Linked DNA regions of Homo sapiens: region 2 is linked to region 1. The links come from fine-mapping of genetic effects on gene expression. A gene starts in region 1. The other region holds a variant in brackets. All regions are shown on one strand. Distances are from middle to middle.

Evidence for each region. PIP is the estimated chance that this variant, and not a neighbour inherited with it, causes the effect.
Region 2: its variant is the best candidate, but not a certain one, in a credible set for the expression of EIF1AD in esophagus mucosa (GTEx, PIP 0.85).

What each region holds. Positions count from the first base shown.
Region 1 is chr11:66,000,630-66,003,129 of GRCh38, reverse strand. EIF1AD (eukaryotic translation initiation factor 1A domain containing) reads left to right here and starts at 973. Exons shown (of 6, transcript NM_001242481.2): 1 at 973-1,220. BANF1 (barrier to autointegration nuclear assembly factor 1) reads right to left here and starts at 627. Exons shown (of 3, transcript NM_003860.4): 1 at 560-627. RefSeq lists a silencer at 266-605 and enhancers at 906-1,275, 2,377-2,500.
Region 2 is chr11:65,968,915-65,971,932 of GRCh38, reverse strand. All of the region lies in intron 12 of SART1 (spliceosome associated factor 1, recruiter of U4/U6.U5 tri-snRNP), which reads right to left. Among named protein-coding and RNA genes, the nearest start is that of SART1, 8.7 kb to the right of the region's middle. The variant AC/C (reference allele first, on the strand shown) is at 1,308.

The DNA.
Region 1 (2,500 bases):
CTTGCTCGATCCCCCTCATCCTGAAAGGAGAAAACAGTTCCAGGGAGACTCTTCCCTACTATTTTTAAGAGGAGTTTCTTCCTGCAGGACCTGGATTTTGATCTTGCCCCAGAGGAAAAACGATCCTGCCTAACAGGTGGCGCAAGCGGGGCAGTGGAAAGATGCCCAGAGTCCGTAGCCAGGGCTGCGCGGAAGCTATCACTCCCTCTGTGACCTTGGCTGAACCAAGACGACACTGCCTGCCTGGAACGGCCACTTGGCGTGGAAAGCTAACCAAAGGGTCTCTCTACCTACAGGGCGAAGCGCACACCTAGCGCTGCGCACACCCGCTCCCCGCCCGCGGGGTTCACGCCGCGCCCCAGCTCCGCCCCCACCGCGCGCCGCTGCGGCCCGCCCCTTCCCGCGGCCCGGCTCCCACGCGCTGCACCCCGCCCCCTCCCCGCAGCGCGGCCAAGCTCTCCCCCAGGGCCCGCCACAGCGCCTGCGACCCCTCTCCTCCCCTTCTCCCCGCAACCCCTCTGGCCTCCAATCAGGGCCCTGCTCCGCGGCTGGCGCTCACCCGCAACTTCAGTTCCCGTAACGGTTCCTCCCGCCACCCGGCCGCTCCTGCGGATACCTCAAGCCACTAGAACTTTCTTCCACTTCCGCTTCCGGGTCGCTTCAAGAGCCGCCTTTAAAAAAGAAACATTCCACGTTGGGCACTTCTAGCCAGTTAGAGCTATAGAGTTGAGGCGCCCCGGACCTCGACGGCGTCCTTAGTAGGCGCTCCTTTCCGGTCCTTCGCGGGAAGCCCTGCCTTCTAAGGTCTCGCTTCTCGCGCAGTTCTGAGGGAGATAGGCCTCCAGGGAGAGGACTTCCTTTCTCTGCTGCCCGGACCCGGAACTCAAGGACTTAGGCTTGACGGACCTGGCGTGGGGAAGAGTTAGAAGACGGACAAGGGAGGGGACGGGAGGCCTCCGAGACAGCGCCGGAAGTACGGTTTTCGGAGGGATCAGACTCAGACTCACGTCGCACTCCTCGCAGTTGGACTGGTGGGAACTGGGAACACTGGAGACCTGATTTCTAACTGACGCTACCGTCGCGGCCGCCGGCAAGTTCCTTTACTGTGTTTTCTTGGTTCAGCCTTGAAGTGAGTCGTGGACGATCCTCTCTCAGCGTCCAGCCTAGACGGCGGTGTTGCTCCGGCAGCGTTCCTGGGAGCCGAGGGCCAGAGACTAAGTGTGGGTGTTTCTCTGAGGGTCTTTTCTCCGGGATAGACAGGGAGGAGGAAGGAGGACAGCAACTAGAGACGACAGTGTTTCTTTCGGAAACCATCAGTCTTAAGGGTACTGGCCTTCGTCTTCTAAGTACGCAAGTCAGAAATATGCAAATGTCGCAGACAAGCCTGCTCACCTCAACCTTTAATTAACTAGTTCCTGGCTTGAACCATCACGGTGGCCACCTAGTTTGTCTCCGGCTGTAGTGTGTTGCCAGACTGAACTTCTCTGTTGTGTGACTATGCTAGACTTGGGGTGTACAAGCGTGTTGAGAAAGATACGGTTTATTTCAAACTCCTTCCAGAGAGGTTGCCAGGATGACTTCTCTGGAGCATGCGTATAGTTTTATATTACACTAGTACTTAAGATTATAGGAGTTACTTTTTTTTTTTTTTTTTTTTTGAGACGGAGTCTTGCTCTGTCGCCCAGGCTGGAGTGCAGTGGCGCGATCTCGGCTCACTGCAAGCTCCGCCTCCCGGGTTCACGCCATTCTCCTGCCTCAGCCTCCCGGGTAGCTGGGACTACAGGCGCTCGTCATCACGCCCGGCTAATTTTTTGTATTTTTGTAGAGAGAGGGTTTCACCGTATTAGCCAGGATGGTCTCGATCTCCTGACATCGTGATCCGCCCACCTCGGCCTCCCAAAGTGCTGGGATTACAGGCGTGAGCCACCGCGCCCGGCCGGAGTTACTTTTACATGACATGCATTGTATTGTCCCATTCTGTTGTAGCAGGACGAGTCGCAGACAGAACTCCTCAGACACCAGATTAAAGAAGGAAGAGGTTTTTTTATTCGGCCGGGAGCGTCGGCAGACTCGTGTCTTAAGAGCCGAGCTCCCCGAAAAAGAAATTCCTAGCCCTTTTAAGGGCTTACAACTCTAAGGGGTCTACGTGAAAAAGTCATAATAGATCAAGTAAGCGTGAGAAACGTGACTGGGGGCTACATACATCAGCTAACAGAACAAAAAGTTTTACAGTGCTTTCTCATACAATGTCTAGAATTTACAGATAACACCAGTAGTTTTGGTCAGGGGTTAATAATATTATTATTATTTTAGCCACCAGGGCCAGGTGGTGGTGCCAAGGTCGTCTAGCTATTTATCTTACTTCTGTTTCTTTCCAACTTTTTGCTTTCTCCCTTTTCTCCTGTCTTATAAACTAGGGAAAAGGGGAGGTTGGAGAGAAACTAAGAAGGCCAACAGGAGAAGTGGTGGCCTCATACCATACTGTAACAGTGCTGAGTTA
Region 2 (3,018 bases), 31 kb after region 1:
CAACCCCTCAATTCCAAGGATCCTTTCTGTTCTCTCCAGCCTTTCTTTCTAGCTCATTGACTGTATTAACTTCAATCCAGTAATTCTTCAACCACATCACGACTCCAGGCCCTGTCCTCACACCCATCATTCTCTGTTATGTCCCTCATTACCCAGTTTAGACTCAGGGGGAAATCAACAGAACCTCTCCTTTGTGAAACCCTTAACTGCCTTGTCCCTCCTCCCTAGAAAACCCAATCCTCAATCCCACCATCCACTGCTTCAGGGCATTAATCCCACCATCCCCCTCCTCAGCTCCTGAATCCCACCATCCCCCTCCTCAGCAGCTCCTGAATCCCACCATCCCCCTCTTCAGCAGCTCATGAATCCCACCATCCCCCTCCTCAGCTCATGAATCCCACCATCCCCCTCCTCAGCTCATGAATCCCACCATCCCCCTCCTCAGCTCATGAATCCCACCATCCCCCTCCTCAGCAGCTCATGAATCCCACCATCCCCCTCCTCAGCAGCTCATGAATCCCACCATCCCCCTCCTCAGCAGCTCATGAATCCCACCATCCCCCTCCTCAGCTCATGAATCCCACCATCCCCCTCCTCAGCAGCTCCTGAATCCCACCATCCCCCTCCTCAGCAGCTCATGAATCCCACCATCCCCCTCCTCAGCTCATGAATCCCACCATCCCCCTCCTCAGCTCATGAATCCCACCATCCCCCTCCTCAGCAGCTCATGAATCCCACCATCCCCCTCCTCAGCTTCTGAATCCCACCATCCCCCTCCTCAGCAGCTCATGAATCCCATCCCCCTCCTCAGCAGCTCATGAATCCCACCATCCCCCTCCTCAGCTCATGAATCCCACCATCCCCCTCCTCAGCTCCTGAATCCCACCACCCCCCTCCTCAGCACCTCATGAATCCCACCATCCCCCTCCTCAGCAGCTCATGAATCCCACCATCCCCCTCCTCAGCTCATGAATCCCACCATCCCCCTCCTCAGCTCATGAATCCCACCATCCCCCTCCTCAGCTCCTGAATCCCACCATCCCCCTCCTCAGCAGCTCATGAATCCCACCATCCCCCTCCTCAGCTCATGAATCCCACCATCCCCCTCCTCAGCTCATGAATCCCACCATCCCCCTCCCTCAGCAGCTCATGAATTCCACCATCCCCCTCCTCAGCTCATGAATCCCACCATCCACACTGCCACTGGCAGGCCTGCTCTTCTCCCAGGGTGTATCTGCTCTCCACTCTCCAGAACAGCATCTCCCATCTCTTTGCACCACCACCTCTGCCACCTCTTCACTGGAAAA[AC/C]ACCAGAACAATCGGCCATGGGCTGCCTTGACTTCCCCTAAACAAGGTCACCCACAGCTGCTGTGCCCTCCCCACCTTCCCTCCTGAAATAAATGATGACACGAGCTGGCTTCACTCAAGCCCACCCTCCACTTGCACTCTAGGCCCCAGCACCGCCTGCCGAGATCTTTTTCTTCTTCCGTCATAAATGTGTCTCCCACATACTCTAGAATCTCCGGTAGTCAGAAAAGGCTCCTTTGCGGGTGGGAAACTTGATTGGATGCTGCTTACAACAAAAAACTAAAAAGACATTTTGGGGGATAACTGGAAAATGTTGGCATGCGAGCTGCTGTTTTACAGCATTTATGGGCTTGTTAGGGCAGTGTGGCTATGCGGGAGAAGGCCCTGATTTCGCCAGATGCCTACTGAAGTCGTTAAGGATGCAGTGTCATGATATCTGCAACTCCCAGTGGTCAGGAAAAAAAGAAGAGAAAGAAAAGAACTGTAACAATGTTTATAATTACTGACTCTAGAGGACAAAGGTGTTCACTGTGATAGGCTTTCCACTTTTTTGCCTGCACAGTGTGTGGGGTGTGGCTCATATGTTTAAAAAACCTTCTAGGTGGCCGGGTGTGGTGGTTCATGCCTCTAATTCCAGCACTTTGGGAGGCTGAGGAGGGTGGATCACAAGGTGAGGAGTTTGAGACCAGCCTGACCAACACGGTGAAACCCTGTTTCTTCTAAAAAATACAAAAATCAGCTGGGCGTGGTGGCATGCACCTGTAGTTCCAGCTACTCAGGAGGCTGAGGCAGGAGAATTGCTTGAGCCCGGGACATGGAGGTTGCAGTGAGCCGAGATCGCGCCACTGCACTCCAGCCTGGTGACAGAGCGAGACTCCGTCTCAAACAACAACAAAAACTTTCTAGGCTACACCAGGCCTGGTGGCTCATGCCTGTAACCCCAGCACTTTGGGAGGTGGAGGCGAGAGGATCGTTTGAGCTCAGGAATTTGAGACCAGCCCGGGCAACACACTGAGACCCACAGGCGCACGCCTGTAGTCTCAGCTACTTGAGAGCCTGAGGCAGGAGGATCCCTTGAGCCCAGGAGTTCAAGGCTGCAGTGAACTATGATTGCACTACTGCACTCCAGCCTGGGCAACCGAGCGAGACCTTGTTTCTTAAAACAACAACAAAAACAACCTCCTAGGTGAGTCTAATGTGCAGGCAGGCTGAGATCCACGGGGCTAGAAACCCTTATGTTCATTTCAGTCATAAAACAGCCCTGTCAGCCTATTGCTCCATTTCTCTGTTCCTTTTTAGCCGGGCAAACTATGTCCCAACACCTGTTCTTAGAAATAAAGTATTACTGGAACCCAGCCACGCCCACTCACTTACAGACTGTCTTGGCTGTTTTCCCTATAACAGCACAGCATTCAAGGTGCCTAACAGAGACCATATGCCCTTAAACCTCAAATACGTCCTCTCCAGCCCTTCAACAGTAAGCCTGGCCTCCGTCCCGGGTTCAGCCCTCACTTTTTCAACTCCCCTGTCCTCCGGGTCCTGAATCCACTGCAACTGTCCCCACTTTGCCTCCCAGTAGTATCAGAAGCTTCCCTCCCTTGCTCCCTCTCCTGGACACGCTTTCTTGGCTTCTTCCTAGGTGAGAAGTGTGGGGTAGGGCTAAAAGTGTGGCCTCTGGAATGATGGAGATGACAGAACCTTCCTCATAGG